Regions from separate parts of the Homo sapiens genome. Here region 1 is linked to region 2. The links come from fine-mapping of genetic effects on gene expression. Tissue or cell type: ovary. Region 2 holds a variant in brackets; the other region holds the start of a gene. All regions are shown on one strand. Distances are from middle to middle.

Region 1 (8,000 bases), 40 kb after region 2:
TTGCACTCCAGCCTGGGCAACAAGAGCGAAACTCCGTCTCAAAAAAAAAAAAAGGCATGTTTGCTGTCTGTCTCCACGACCAGACCACACCAGGTGCACGGTTCCCTCATCCTCGCCTCTCAGCACCACAAGCCCCGGCATGCGGCGCGCGGCCACAGTGAGTGCTCAACGCCAGGCCCATGGCAGCCCTGGGAGCAGCCGCCCAAAGCCTCCTCAGGCGGCAGCGTGTCCTGCTGAGTTACTTAAACCTGGAAACCACTTGACGTCAGCTGTTCGTAATTTTTAAAAAGTATTAAAGTGCTTTTACCACATCAAAACACAACTACCATATTTTTCAGAAGAAAACACACGTCAGCACATTTCTCTGACATCATGATGAACAGCATCATTTTTCTTTTATGCATTCAGAAAAATACGTGCAAAAATGACAAAAACCTGAAATCAACCTCATGGCTCCAAATCCCAACGTCAAACCAGAGTTTAGCGACGGACGCCAACCCCTGAGAGTCACAAAGCCTTCCCTCACTTTTTTTTCTTAACCAACCAAACAAGCAGCAGTGACCCCTTTGCCTTCGAGGGCCACTCAGCTGACCAAGGGCAGCCCAGACGCTGCTGGCCCCCACCCAGCCCCCAGGCCGAACAAGCACCCAGAGCACACGCAATGCCCTGACATACCCAGCACACCAGGACTGGGATCCAGTTCCTCAACCCGCAAAGCTCCGTAGGGGAAAAGTGCCTCACAACGCAACAAGAAGCTCCTCCCAAGGGTCTCAACACTGAGCTGTGAGTCCCTGGGGGACACTCGGGAACTCCAATGGGGAAGAATACAGTGCGTTAGGAAGCCAGTGGGTGGGGAAGTCTATGCCCCACGGACACAAGGGCGGGACACAGGAGGTGGGTGGACGGCACCAGCCCCGTAGGGCATCTGTGAGCTCTGCCACGGGCTCCCAGTGTTTTGGAGCCTGAGAAGGAGACTGACCTGTGTGGCAAGAAACTATAAGCAGCTTATATAAAAATGTGGACTGGAAAGCCACAGCAGCCTCCCCAAAGGAAGCCCGACAGGAAGCGGGGCAGGAGGAGCAGGTCCTTAGGGAAAAAGGCAAGAGGAAGAGGGAGGACTGGGAGGGGAGCCTGCACAGGTGGCTCCGCAGCCCCCCTGGGCCACCACACAGCCACGCTGACCTCTGGCATCATGGCCTCCAGCAGGCTGCCCACCCCTGGCTCCCCAGCGCTCAGGTCATGCCTGAACTGGCCCTCAGGAAGTGGGGGGTTCCTGGTGACCACAGGTGCCCACCCACCCCAGGGCTTCTCCAGGACAGGTGGGGGGAGCCAGGATGGACGAAGGCAGGGCAGGGGCAGAGCTGCACAGGGGGGACCAGTAGGAGGCGGGGCTGCCACAAAGAAAAGGGGGGCAGGGGGCAGGTGTGTGCAGGGCAGGGCCAGGTCAGGTGAGGCTAGGCAGGTCACCAGGGGCAGGTGTGCGGGGCAGGTGTTTGGGGTAGGTGGGGCAGGCTGGTCACCTGGGGCAGGTATGTGGGGCAGGTGTGCGGGGCAGGTAGGGCAGGCCGATCACGTGGGGCAGGTGGGGAAGGCTGGAAACGTCGAGCAGGTGTGCGAGGCAGGTATTTGTGGCAGGTGGGGCAGGCTGGTCACCTGGAGCAGGTACGTGGGGAAAGTGTGAGGGGCGGGTGGGGCAGGTGTGAGAGGCAGATGTGAGGGGTGAGCTAGTCACGTGGGGCAGGTGTGCAGGGCGGGTGGGGCGGGCGGGTCACGTGGAGCAGGTGTGAGGGGCAGGTGTGCAGGGCGGGTGGAGCGGGCTGGTCACGTGGAGCAGGTGTGAGGGACAGGTGTGGCGGGCTGGTCACCTGGGACAGTTGTGCGGGGCAGGCGCGCGGGGTAGGCGCGCGGGAACCGGACGAGGCGAGAGGCCGGCGGGCGCACTTGCCTGCGAAGGCTGCGGCAGCGGCGGCCTCGTCGGGGCCGGGCAGGGCCTCGGCGCCCATGTCCATGTGCCCGGGCTCCGCCGCCATCACCGCCACTGCCGTGACCCGCGGCGTCTCCCGCTCCGCCTCCGAGTCTGCGTCCTCCTCCGAGTCCTCGTCCCTGCTCAGCACCGGCTCCTCCGCCTCGCCTCCTGCCGCGGCCGCGGCCGCCGCCGCCACAGCGGCCGCGGCCGCCACCGCCGCCGCCTCAGCCAGGCCCAGCTGCTTTGCCGCCGAGTCCGAGTCCTCCATCCGGACTCCGCCGAGCCTTCCCGAAGGCGCCGTCCGGGACCGCCCGAAGCGCCGGTCGCGGAGCCCGAAGCGGGGCCCGAAGAGGACGCCCGAGCTGGGCCGAGGCCGCCCGAAGCCGCCGCCCGAATAGGGACCGAAAAGGCAGCCAGCCGCCGAGCAGAGCCGAGCCGAGTCCGCCCGCGGAGCGGAGCCGAGGCGAACAGAGGCTGCCCGAGTAGGAGCCGAACCTGCACGAAGCCGCCGAGCCGAGACCGAGTCCTGAACCGAGGAGGGTCGAAGTTCCCCGAAGTGGGAAGCCGAATCAGTCCGAATAGGTCCGAGTCCTCACGAGGGCTTCCGAGAGACTCGGCCCCTGCTCTCCTCACTGTCCTGACAGGCTGAGGCGGCTGTCGTCCCCGGCCGACAGGGCTGGACGGCTCTAGGCAGATTCTCGCCGGCGGCCGGCGCAATTCTGCCTCTCAGAGAGAGCTTAGTGCCGCGGGTTTCGCCCGTTCCCGCCGCCGGCGGAAGCCGAGTCAGCCCGAGGCCGAGCCGAGACGAGCCGAATGTCCCCGAGGCCGAATGCTCCCGAACGTCGGTTCTCCACCTCTTCCCTTCCGAAAGTGCCCGAGCGGTGCCGGACGGACTAATCGGGCCTCGGCCGTGGCTCGGACGTCCGCTCCCGAAACGCGGCGCGGTCGGGCCCCTTCGTCAGGAGACGCGAAAATGGCCGAAGGAGCGCGAGCGCGCGGGCCGAGAGGCTGCCGGGATCGCGACGGACCGGCGGGCGGGGCGGGTAAGATGGCGGCCCCGCGGCGAGGTGAGCTCGGGCGGGGTGGGGGCTTCCGGGCTTGCAGCGGCGGGCGCGGCGTTTCCCTGTGGTGACAATCCGGTTTCCGCTTTCGGTGCGCTCACGGGGCCGTGCCACCGTCTCTACGTGAGCGAGACAGCTCCGTCACCCCATCGAGAAGCGCGGCCTGGCCTGGCCTGGGTGGCGGGCGTCCTGCACCCCGAAGAGCTCCCCCGCGCGCGGGCGCCTGGCCCCGGGCAGGGTGGGTGCGGAGCGGCTCTGGGGGCCCCAGTCCCCGGCAGCTCTTGTCCCGCGCGTGGTTTTTGTGAAGACACGTGGGCGGGATGGGCGCAGGGTTTCGGTAGCCTTGGAACTCTCGCCAAAGAAAATCGCGGGCGCCGGTGCCTCAGCCGTCCTGCCTGAGAGACTCGCCTCCGAGAGGAGGAAGGGACAGACCAAAGCAGTAAATCGGCCATCCTGCAGAGGAGCCGCCTTCTGCTGTCTGTGGGTACAGCCAGAACTCCCATACGCGGGCGCTGAAGTGCCAAACCTTCGTGCGTGTTCTCTAGTAATTAGGTGCATTGTTTTGAAGGAATAAAGAATGGCTACTCCATAGGCAGGACAGCCTCTAGTAACCAGGTTTGTTTTGTGTATTTTCATTTGGTTAAAAATTAAGTTTAGGTTGGGCGCAGTGGCTCAGGCCTGTAAGCCTGACAGTTTGGGAAGCCGAGGCTGCAGGATCATTTGAGGCCAGCCTGGGCAACATAGCAAGACCCCCTCTATAAAAAAAAAACTGTAAACATCAGCCAGGCGGTGGCGCACCCCTGTGGGCCAAGCTATTCTGGAGGCTGAGGCTGGCGGATCACTTGAGCCCAGGAGGTCGAGGTTGCAGTGAGCCGTGATGGCGCCACTGCACTCCAGCCTGGGCGACAGAGCGAGACCCCCTTCTACAAAAAAAAAATTAAAAATTACCCCGGGGAAGGCCAGGCGCAGTAGCTCACGCCTGTAATCCCAGCACTTTGGGAGGCCAAAGCGGGCGGATCACCTGAGGTCGAGGGTTCAAGACCAGCCTGACCAACATGGAGAAACCCCGTCTCTACTAAAAATACAAAATTAGCCTGGCGTGATGGTGCATGCCTGTAATCCCAGCTACTTGAGAGTCTGAGGCAGGAGAATTGCTCGAACCCGGTGGTGGTGGTGGGGGGGGTGGGGTGCGGAGGTTGCAGTTGGCCAAGATCGCACCATTGCACTGCAGCCTGGGCAACAAGAGCGAAATTCTGTCTCAAAAAAAAAAAAAATTACCTCAGGGAGCCTGTGGTCCCAGCTACGTGGGAGGCTGAGGCTGGCGGATCACTGGAGCCCAGGAGGTTGAGACTGCAGTGAGCTGTGATCAGGCCACTGCACTCCAGCCTGGGCAACAGAGCAAAACCCTGTCTCTAAAAAAACTAAGTGTATACCAAAACAAGATTTCTTAACACATCTTGTCCATTACATCAGGGAAAACACTTGTTCTCTTTCACTTCCATGTTTAACTTCTGCCTGACACAGCTATTCGTAGCCACATTGTGATTATAGTAAGTCACTGACAAAAAATGTTGTCCTGAAAGCCAAGGCTACGTTCGGTCAGAATGAGCTCCTGCAGGTCTGGAATTGTTAGAACAGCGTATCTGGTTATAGCCGCCCTTCATATTAATTATTAAAATGTTACATCACTTAAGGCTTTTATACAGTTTTTCCCCCAAGCCCCATAACTTCAATCTATAACAGTGAGCAACTAGCAGACACATTGGAAGTGTTTAAGAAGCCAGCCTTTAAGAAAAGGAACAGAAGGGACAAAAACCCCAATTAATGCGAAATCATCACAGATAATGACAGGTATTTAGGTGGCCTGGTTTAGCTAAGGCCTGGAAAAGAACAGATCGGGTTTAAAGAGTGGCCTGCCGGGAACGCGATGCGGCGTGGTCTGCCGTGCACTTGGCTTCCTGCTTCCATCCTGTGGTGCCTCTTCCAGGAGCCCAGTTCTGAGTCTCTGATGCCGATGTCCTGTATTTACTGGCTTAAAACTCTTGCCTGTGTGAGATTCCACAAACTCTGGCACAGAAGGCCCCAGATCTGCCCAAGAAGCTGTGGGATCAGCCACAAAATCTCACCAACGCCAGGTTTCTGTCCTGCCCTCCCTGGCGCTGAAGGGGAAATAGAACAGAGGCTGTGTTCAGGTTGCTGTCCTGCCTGCCGCCCAGCGGTGCAGCTTGAGCCTCCTTTTATGAGAGGTTTCCACCCAATTCTAGATGTGTATTGAGGTATCTACACATGGAGGGACGTGCACATATCACACGTGCAACTGGCCTGAGCCCTTTTCAGACAATTAGTCCGCTCCAGGTCAGCGTGGATCCAGGGTGAGTCAGAGGCGTCTTCAGATGCAAAACCTCAGAATCAAAAAGGAGGAAAGAGACTCCACTCACTCCTCGGGCTTCCTGTCATCTCTCAGGTGGGGGTGGGAGAAGGCCCAAGAGGTTGCATGATAAAAAGACTGGACAGCTGCATTGCTGGTTTGGAAAATCCTTATTTTTGGAGGGATATTTGGGGATAAAATTTCAGAGGAAAGCAAATGTCTCATCAATCATGAAAAAAGATTTGTTACAACCTAAGTCAGAAAAGGTTTTCATCTAGTCATATATGTGTGGCAAATACGGAGAAGCCACAGACGGTGAGCCACAGACAATGAGAGCAGCTGTTGGGGTGGGCTCCAGGGTGCTGCTTTCCCTGAGGGCCAGCTGGGTCTGGCCCAGGTTCACTTCCCACCCCGGTGCCCCCGGTACTCGCTGTCTCCAGCCTCAGGTTCTGAAAGGCAGAGACTCCTAGCCTCATTGAAGGATGGTTAGAGAGGCACGGGAGCTATCTAGTGGCAGGCCCACGGTATATGTTTGCTGCTTTCTACAAATACGAGATCAAAGGAAAATAAAGCAGGGGTGGTTCCTGTCAGTGTGGAGCGAGACCCGGGAAAGCATCCTGGTGGCTGTCAGGCCTTGCTCACGGCCCCTTTCTCTTTCAGGGAGAGGATCCTCCACAGTGGTATCCTGCTGCGTGCCCCTCCAGGACAGCACCCAGAGGCCCGAATTGCTGCTGCACAGAGAGCACTCGGCCTCACCCCACGTTTTCCCTAAGTTCTGTCTAGTAATTCCACTTTGGAGAGGGGGGTGTTCCTTGACAGATTTAGAGAGTTGATGTAACTTCCTCGGATCAGTTCTGCTGGCTCCATCCCCTACCTGCTCAGCCCTGCACAAAGTGGCTAAGCACGCCACACTGCCGGCTCCCAAGGCGATGGCCACCTGCCTCTGTCTCGGCCGCTAGTGGCAGGAAGATGGAAATCCCTCACTTTGTCCCTAGATTCATTTTATTTTATTTTTGTTTGTTTATGTTTTTTTAAGGACAGAGCCTTCCTCTCACCCAGGCTGGAGTGTGGCAATCACAGCTCACTGCAGCCTCAGCCTCCTGAAGCTCTGGCATCAGGCGGGAGCCACTGTGCCTGGCCCCATAGACTCATGTTAGCATAAACAAATAGGAAATGTACACAGCTCAGGAAATGGCTACTAGATACTTAAGTCCCCCAAACAGAAATATATTTCCTCTGAAGAAACTGAAAAAAGTGGCCGGGCGCAGTGGCTCATGCCTGTAATCCCAACACTCTGGGAGGCTGAGGTGGACAGATCACTTGACACCAGGAGTTTCAGACCAGCCTGGCCAACATGGTGAAACCCTGTCCCTACTAAAAATACAAAAAATTAGCTGGGCATGGTTTTGCACGCCTGTAATCCCAGCTACTCAGGAGGCTGAGGCAGAAGAATCACTTGAACCCAGGAGGCGGAGGTTGCAGTGAGCCAAGATTGTGCCACTGCACAGTGTCCAGTCTGGGCAACAGAGCAAGACTCTATCTCAAAAAAAAAAAGAAAATGACAAAGTTATTTTTTCTCTCTTAACTCATAACTGGGGCCAAAGGCAGGGTGACATCACTGGGGATGCCAGTGTGTGGAGGCTGTCCCCTGACCAGTCCTGTCCACAGTCAGGAGGGCAGGGGCTGCAGTGCACAGACCGCATTGTTGTGGCATGGAGGGGGGTCCCACAAAGGCCTTGTCAGCTCATGGGACCACATTGGCAGCCAGCATAGTGACAGAAGCCTCAGATAGGCAGTGAGCCATTGCCAAGACTCCATGGTCCCTTGGTGTCTGTGGCCACCAAACAGATGACAGAACCAGCCCCTCTTGTTCAGCCACCTGGGAGGCTGCTCCCAAGCCTGTTGAGCTTGAGGATCCTTAACCACTCACCAGCTCTCTTCAGTTCCCCTTCAAATGCTGTTTTATCTCAGCGGAACGTACTACGCCCTGTATTTCCTCGCCACGCTCCTGATGATCACGTATAAAAGTAAGTCAGGGACGGGCACAGTGGCTCACGCCTGTAATCCCAACATTTTGGGAGGCTGAGGTGGGCGGATCACTTGAGGTCAGGAGTTTGAGACCAGCCAGGCCAACATGGGGAAACCCCATCTCTACTAAAAACACAAAAAGTAGCCGGGCGTGGTGGTGGGCGCCTGTAGTCCCAGCTACTCGGGAGACTGAGGTGGGAGGATTGCTTGAACCCGGGAGGTGGAGGTTCCAGTGAGCCAAGATTGCGCCACTGAACTCCATCCTGGGTGACAGAGCAAGACCCTGTCTCAAAAAAAAAAAAAAGGAAAAGGCAAGCTGAGGTGGCTGCTGCTGCTGTGCCAGGTTACTTATGTTCCGTCCGCGCCTCTGCTCTTCAGGTCAGGTGTTCAGCTATCCTCACCGCTACCTGGTCCTCGATCTTGCTCTGCTGTTTCTGATGGGGATTCTAGAAGCAGTTCGGTTATACCTGGGTGAGTGGACTGTTAACACCGTGAAGAACCTGTCCTAAGAGTTGCTATCTGTTTCCACAGCCTTTCAAGAGTAATTATTTTATAGTGTGGTTCTCAGAGACATTTT
Region 2 (8,000 bases):
GTGGAGCGGAGGGCTGAATAATAGAGGAACTGTGGACGCTGTCTCTCGCGTGGCTCTGCAGGGGTGTGGAGGGCTCAATAATAGAGGAACTGTGGACAGTCTCTCTCTCGCGTGGCTCTGCAGGGGTGTGGAGGGCTCAATAATAGAGGAACTGTGGACGCTCTCTCTCGCGTGGCTCTGCAGGGGTGTGGAGGGCTCAATAATAGAGGAACTGTGGACAGTCTCTCTCGCGTGGCTCTGCAGGGGTGTGGAGGGCTCAATAATAGAAGAACTGTGGACAGTCTCTCTCGCGTGGCTCTGCAGGGGTGTGGAGGGCTCAATAATAGAGGAACTGTGGACAGTCTCTCTTGCGTGGCTCTGCAGGGGTGTGGAGGGCTGAATAATAGAGGAACTGTGGACAGTCTCTCTCACGTGGCTCTGCAGGGGTGTGGAGGGCTCAATAATGGAACTGTGGACAGTCTCTCTTGCGTGGCTGTGCAGGGGTGTGGAGGGCTGGGAAGCACTGACCAGCAGCCCTCAGGGTTTCCGGCCACCAACTGTGGGGCCTCACATGAGAGCACTACCTGGCCATGTCACATGTGAGCCTTCTGCAGGGTCTTCACGGAGCCAGGCAGGAGCCCCGGATTCCCAGAGGGAGGGACAGGGAGGGGAGTCAGGTGTGGCACCAGGAGCACAAGGGGAGGGAGGGCCACCCAGGGGTCTTCGTAGCGAGGGAGGAGGCGGGGGCACTGAGCCTGGTGTAGGTGAGACCTACCTTGCGTTGGCAGAAGGTGGAGCAGTAGTTGACCTTGTGGCAGCCGGTGCACTCGCTCATAGCCTCCCGGCCGCAGTTAACGCAGGACTGCTGCAAGAAGGACACAACAGGCCAGTCAGTGACGTGGCCGTGGAGAGCCCCTGAGACACCGGGGACAGAGGCAGGTGCAGGCAGGAGGCCCCAAGTTCCCCCCATTGGACCCCCTTTTTTTTTTTTTTTTTTTTTGAGATGGAGTCTCACTCTGTCGCCCAGGCTGGAGTGCCGTGGTGCGATCTCAGCTCACTGCAACTTCCGCCTCCTGGGTTCAAGCAATTCTCCTGTCTCAGCCTCCTGAGTCTGGGATGATAGGTGCCTGACACCACGCCCAGCTAATTTGTGTATTTTTAGTAGAGACAGGGTTTCACCATGTTGGTCAGGCTGGTCTTGAACCTCTGACCTCGTGATCCACCTGCCTCGGCCTCCCAAAGTGCTGGGATTACAGGCGTGAGCCACTGCGCCCAGCTCCCATTGGACTCTTGACTGCGCCTCTGCCCCAGTGCTGCTCAGAACGTTCTTGTCACCTCCAGAATCAGCTCTTTCCTGGCCTCAGTGCAGTTTGCCCCCTACATTCATTCACTGGAAGACCAGTATGGGCCGGGAGCAGCGGCTCATACCTGTAATCCCAGGACTTTGGGCAGCCGAGGCGGGTGGATCACCTGAGGTCAGGAGTTCAGCACAGGCAACGTTGCGAAACCCAGTCTCTACTAAAAATACAAAAATTAGCTGGGTGTGGTGGTGGCCACCTGTAATCCCAGCTACCTGGGAGGCTGAGGTGGGAGAATAGCTTGCACCCAGGAGGCGGAGGTTGCAGTGAACCGAGATTGCACTACTGCACTCCAGCCTGGGTGACAGAGCGAGACTCCCATCTCAAAAAAAAAGGGAAATCAGGGCCGGATGCAGTGGCTCATGCCTGTAATCCCAGCACTTTAGGAGGCTGAGGTGGGCGGATCACGAAGTTAGGAGATCGAGACCATCCTGGCTAACACGGTGAAACCCCGAGATTGTACCATTGCACTCCAGCCTGGGCGACAGAGCAAGACTGTCTCCAAAACAAACAAACAAACAAACAAACAAAAACAAAGGGAAATCAGCATGGAAATCTTTCTCCAAACTCCAAGGAGCTTCACTCCAGCCAGGCCAGCACAGAAAATCAAACTCAGGAGTCCACCGCTCCCAACACTCCTGAGCAGGGCTGTGGGCATCAGCCTGGGCGCACCGTGGCAGGCATGTGTCCCAAACTGCTGCGGCGGTGCCCCAGCCAACACCCCCACGGCCCCACCTGAGCTGGTTTCTGTGGTGGATTGAAAAGATGCCACCAGAGGTTTGTGTACTTTCTCCTGGAATTACATTATTGGAGCTTTTCTTTTTAATCAGCGCATAGGTCAACATGCTGTCAATGATTAATGTTTGCGGCATGACTAAGGTGCTTGACAGTTGTGAGCTCCGCCGTCAATGCTCTCTGAGACGGAGAAGACCACTGGGCCTAGGAGAGGCCTTGGCGCCGCGACCTGCACGCCCGCTATGCGCCCAGATCATCCGCAGCTGCGGGAGGGGCCGTGGCCAGTGGGTGAGTGGCAGCGTCTGTGAGCAGCACAGAGCAGCACAGGAAACGACTCCAGCGCGGCCCCACGGCCCCTGCACGCGTGCAGACCTGCTCCGAGGTTCTGTTCTGATGCTTGCCTCCCTCCTTCGCAAACGTGATCTTTAACATTTTTCCAGTTGTAAGACATTCAGAGCTCCGACATTCAGTCACTCACTTCAGAAAACAGGAGCATTAGGAGGAATTTTGGTGCTAATTTAGGTTGCCCCCTGCCTCTACTTTATTTATTTATTATTATTATTATTTTTTTGAGATGGAGTCTCACTCTGTCGCCCAGGCTGGAGTGTAGTGGCGCAATCTCGGCTCACTGCAACCTCCACCTCCTGGGTTTAAGTGATTCTTGTGCCTCAGCCTCCCCACAGCTGGGACTACAGGCACGGACCACCACGCCTGGCTAATTTTTTTGTATTTTTAGTACAGATGGGGTTTCACCATATTGGTCAGGCTGGTCTCGAGCTCCTGACCTCAAATGATCCACCTGAGTCGGCCCCCCAAAGTGCTGGGATTACAGGCATGAGCCACCGCGCCTGGCCTGTGCCTCTACTTTAAATGACAAACTTTTTTTTTTTTTTTGAGATGGAGTCTCGCTCTGTCGCCCAGCCTGGAGTGCAGTGGCACGATCTCAGCTCATTGCAACCACCACCTTCCAGATTCGAGCAATGCTTCCACCTTAGCCTCTCAAGTAGCTGGGATTATAGGCGCTTGCCACCATGCCTGGCTAATTTTTGTATTTTTAGTAGAGACGGGGTTTTGCCCTGTTGGCCAGGCTGGTCTCGGAAACTCCTGACCTCAGGTGATCCGCCTGCCTTGGCCTCCCAAAATGCTGGGATTACAGGCATGAGCCACCAAGCCCAGCCGACAAAATATTTCTTAAAAAGTCTGTAACCACAGAGAAGCTTCTCGAAGGAGAACACAGCTTCTGCAGGCTTTATTAACATTCTGGGTTGCTCTGTGGATGGCCGGGCCAGGCAGGACCCTGGTCCAGCCCCTCACAGACAGAGGTCAGGTGGGGTGGGAGGCTGGCGGGAGCGTGGTCACTGTCCCGGGGAGCGGCCCCCACGCTGAGAAGGGCACGGGTCTCCGTGTCCAGCAGTCCCTGTGCACCACACACCAGGACGTCCTGTACTTGCCCCCCAGCATAGTTCCTGGAGGACAGCACCCCTGAACTGAACGGGAAGCCTGTCCTGTTGCCTCGCAGGCGCCTCTTCAGCCTCAGCTGGGACTTTCAACCACTTGGGCCTTTC[G/A]CGGTATGCCCTTTGCAAAACTTTTTTTTTTTTTTAAACTGAAAAATAACGTTCTAGGAAGGTTAGAAGGAGCTTTGGGGTCTGAATTAGAGTCAGAGGCAGTAGCATGAACTCATGTTCTCTTCACAGATACAGAAGTGGCTGCGGAGATGTTCATACACACAGGTGACACCCTCATCCCTGCTCTGCAGCTGAACAGGTGACACCCTCGTCCCTGCTCTGCAGCTGAGGGCCTCCACGTGACAACATCCCAGCAGCACCGGACCCACCTGGCACCCACCTGGCACCCAGGCCTCACTCTCTAAGACTTCCCAATAAAAGGACCTGGGGCTCCCTGCCTGGCACCCAGGCCTCACTCTCTTAAGACTTGCCAATAAAAGGACCCGGGGCTCCTTGGAGAAGGGGCTGATTCCCGGGCCAGGGCAGGGAATGCAAGAGGAGGCTGGAGCACCCTGCAGTGCCAGGAAGTCAGGACGTACCCCAAAATGAAAAGTCTGTTGAAAGGGGTGCATCAGGGGACCCAGGAGCCGACGGCAGGAGCTCCCTAGGGCCAAGGACAGATGGTGTGCTTCACAAGAAAGTAGTGTTGCCTTCTAGCTCAGAGTTTAAAACACATATAAAATGAGCCCATCCGGATACAAACAAATGATCAAATAAATAAATACAAGTCCAAGCTATTCCAGATCCTCCCGTCTAGGAGAAGCCCCCCCACGGCCGTGGACTTGCTGCCTGACTAAATGTGCAAAGGGAGAAGCAGTCCTGTCACCAAGGAGACACCTACAGACACCTGACTCTGGTGAGGAAGGTCAGAGCTGTCTGTAATGTCACTTGGATGTCAGGGACGCCACAGTGGGGTGAGACAGGCGGCAGCACCCCTCCCTGAAACCTGTCGTCCACCCCCACGAGAAAGCACAAGACAAGCCTGGATCGGGGCACCTGGACAAACTGCCTGGCCAGGCCCTCTCAGAACTGCAGGGCATGGAAGACAAGGAAAGACTGAGAGACCGTCACAGGCCTGAGGGTGCTGGGCAAATGGTGCACGGGAGGCTGTCTCCCACAGGTGGCAGCGGGGACAAGGTCCTAGAGCAGAAACAGGACATTGATAGTGAAATTCAAAGTCCGGAGTTCACAGGGACACCCAGCGACGGTTTCTCAGCTACAACAGCCATGCCCTGTGGGCTTTGAAGTTACAGAGGGGAGGCTGCGGAGTGGCAGAAGGGACCCTCTGCGCTCACTTTGCAACTTTTCTGTAAACCTAAAATTATCCCGAAATACGTTTATTTTTTAAAATAACCATTCATTAGCCGGGCACGGTGGCTCACGCCTGTAATCCCAGCACTTTGGGAGGCTGAGGCAGGCGGATCACGAGGTCAGGAGATCGAGACCATCCTGGCTAACACGGTGAAACCCTGTCTCTACTAAAAATACAAAAAAATTAGCCAGGCGTGTTGGCGGGTGCCTGTACTCCCGGCTACTCGCGAGGCTAAGGCAGGAGAATGGCATGAACCCAGGAGGTGGAGCTTGCAGTGAGCCGAGAACGCGCCACTGCACTCCAGCCTGGGTGACAGAGCTAGACTCTGTCTCAAAAACAAAAACAAAAAACCATTCATTACTGCGGAAGAGGTGTGTGTGCGTTGCAGAAGGTTAGGACAAGACACCGCGTTTCCGCAGCCAAGGACATCGACAAGTCCCATTCTGCGCTTTCAGGAAACTGTCAGGAAATCACAGGACTGCGGATGGCACAAAGGGCAGAAGTGCCCAGGCCTGCCCAGGCGCCCCAAGAAGCTCATGCTGCCAAGCAGCTGGCATTGCCATTAGCATTCAGAGTTCTCTGGGCCGCAGGCGGGCAGAGGAGGAGACTGCAGCAGAGCACCCTGCGGGGAGTCCCGCCCAAGCAGCGGGTCCAGCCCCTCAGCAGAGACTGCGAAGGGGTTTCCTGGCCTGCCTTCCCTGCTGCAGGGGCCCCCCATCTGCACATCACACAACAGGAACACACCTACTTTTGGCAATGCAATAGCTGGTGTACTCTGGTCCAGGTGGAAAAAAGCCTTGTGAATCACATATGCTGGTTTCATTATAATTGATTTTTAAATTAGACAAATTACAGATAACAAAGCCACTCCTTCAGAAACAGCCAACCAAGAGTAAGACCATAAGATCACATATAAAATGCCTATTAATTTCTAACTATCAAAGAATAAGTTAATAATGTATTCATTATTCTTTCTGCAAATAAAACTAAGTCTAACTTGAAAACCTAGATACTGGCCAGGCATGGTGGCTACACCTGTAATCCCAGCACTTTGGGAGGCCGAGGCGGGAGCATCGCTTGAGCCCAAGAGTTTAAGGCCAGCCTAGGTGACATGGCAAAACCCTGTCTCTACAAAAAAAAAAAAAAAAAAAATTAGCTGGGCATGGTGGCATGCACCTCTTAGCTACCAGAGAGGCTGAGGTGGGAGGATTGCTTGAGCCTGGGAGGTGGAGGTTGCAGTGAGCTGAGGTCACACCAGTGCACTCCAGCCTGGGTGACAGAGGGAGAACATGTCTCAAATGATAAAAAATAATAATAAAAAAGAAAACCTAGACACACCCCGGATGGAGATGAGGCTGTGGTTGGAGGCAGCCTGGTGGATCGTGTATCTTACAAGGAGTGCTTTCTTTATGACTTATTCTTAGAGGATGTAATGCTGCCAGGAGCCTCGATGGAGCCAACTCCGTGTCACCATCACTCCTGAACCAAATGGGGCCACAGGCCCACTGTGCACAGGGGCCTCCGCCTGCTTCAGGGGCCAGGTGATTGGAGGGCGAGTTGGCCTCGGGGTTCAGAGCCGCTGGGAGAACCCTGAGTAGCCTTTGCAGATCCGCTCCTGGGTCTAGTTCCAGAGGCTCCTTTCCCGGCACTGCAGTGAGTTCAGGTGAAGCAGCCGCCTAATTCCACAGGCCCGGCCTCCTCTGGAGAGACAGAGCGGGAGAGGGGAGAGTGAGCAGGAAGCCAGCGGTAGATGGGGCTTCAGGAGAACCTGCTGGACCCTGAAGCCGTGAACCGGAAGCTGGGGAGTCCCAGCGTCACCCTGCATGGAGGCTGAAATACAAAGTCCCCAACACAGGGCAGGTGGGGCCAGGTGGGGCTTGGGCAGGCAGGGCCCAAGGGGCTGCTGCTGTGCACCCTTGAGGTCTGCCCCCGGGACCACTGTGGCTTCACCAATGCCCACCATGGGGCAGAGGGCTCCCCATGACTGTGTCCCGTGAGGGCGCAGCAGCTCAGCTTAAAAGTAAGAGAAATGCAAATTAGACTGGATTACTCTCCCTCGAGGAAGCAACGGAAATAAGAGAAAACCCTCAAAACATCAAGCAGGTTTATCTGAAAGCTGAGCCGCACACGTAAAGAGATCAAAGGATTAGTCTAATAGCATCTTTTTGAGCTGGGACAGAGTTTGCCGTTTCTATGAAATGACCATGATACAGATCTCTGAGGAAGCATCAGACAAATTCAGATTTACAACCTGTCCCCGCCCCTGCCCCAGAAAGCCCACACACCTCATCCCAGGTCAGGCAGGGTCCCCCTGAAGTGGGACTGCAAAGCCACCTCTGTGCTTTTCCCAGGCTGCCCCGCCGGCGCCGCCTCACCCCGTCCCGGGCACCTGGCCGCCCCTCCCACCACAACACCCCTGGCTCCCTCGGGGGACTCCAAGCCTGCATTTCCGGGGGCTTCCACGCTGCTGGGGGGTGCTCTGAAGAGTTCCCTGGGGACACGGGGATGGCGGGCTGCTCCCGAGTATCCCAAAGACGCCAGCAACCCTCGCTCACTGGGCCACGGCAGGACGTTGGTCCAGTCCGGCTCTGGAATCTGATGTTTGATGCGGAACAGGTGACTGAGCTGTCTTGGGTCTGGCCGGGCCTATTTGGCTCACGTGAGTGTTAGGCTGACACTGGAGAACAAGGCAGGCAAAAGCCTTCATTTACAGAAACCCCATACCTGGACTTCAAGGAAATGTCACTGAAACACAAGCCCCTCTCGGCGCTGCTTGAGGCACCCGCGGCCTTACGGTGTTGGGAGAGGCCCCCGCAGGGAAGCGGCTGCTCTGGGGTCTGTCTCCACCCTTCCAGATCCCCAGGCACGGAGGCACCATCCAGGCACAGCACAGACCTATTTCTGAGCTTCCTAGGAGTCAAGGACATTGTTACTGTCCAACTTACGTATTCTTCTCCCTTTCATACCCTTCTGTGCTGTACTATATTTAACACTTTAAAAGGAAGTTAGGGAGACTGGAGAAAGCCTGAGAGCGAGCTACTAGAAACGGGGACAGGCTAGAGGAATGGGGTTTGCGCTCAGGGCAGCATGGCCAACAACAAGCCGGGGCCA

Evidence for each region. PIP is the estimated chance that this variant, and not a neighbour inherited with it, causes the effect.
Region 1: TMEM80 starts here. The variant in region 2 is fine-mapped to the expression of TMEM80 in ovary (GTEx, PIP 0.91).

Annotation. Positions count from the first base shown.
Region 1 is chr11:692,814-700,813 of GRCh38, forward strand. It overlaps TMEM80 (transmembrane protein 80), which reads left to right and starts at 3,003. Exons shown (of 5, transcript NM_001042463.3): 1 at 3,003-3,033; 2 at 6,056-6,075; 3 at 7,329-7,422; 4 at 7,802-7,894. The coding sequence starts at 3,015. DEAF1 (DEAF1 transcription factor) reads right to left here and starts at 2,409. Exons shown (of 12, transcript NM_021008.4): 1 at 1,946-2,409. The coding sequence starts at 2,234. RefSeq lists silencers at 1,781-2,030, 2,051-2,170, 2,181-2,480, 2,981-3,400 and enhancers at 1,846-2,385, 2,386-2,927, 2,928-3,467, 4,008-4,547.
Region 2 is chr11:653,208-661,207 of GRCh38, forward strand. DEAF1 (DEAF1 transcription factor) reads right to left here. Exons shown (of 12, transcript NM_021008.4): 11 at 755-844. It overlaps LOC124902603 (a long non-coding RNA gene), which reads left to right and starts at 1,816. Exons shown (of 2, transcript XR_007062543.1): 1 at 1,816-2,360; 2 at 3,767-5,897. The variant G/A (reference allele first, on the strand shown) is at 3,638.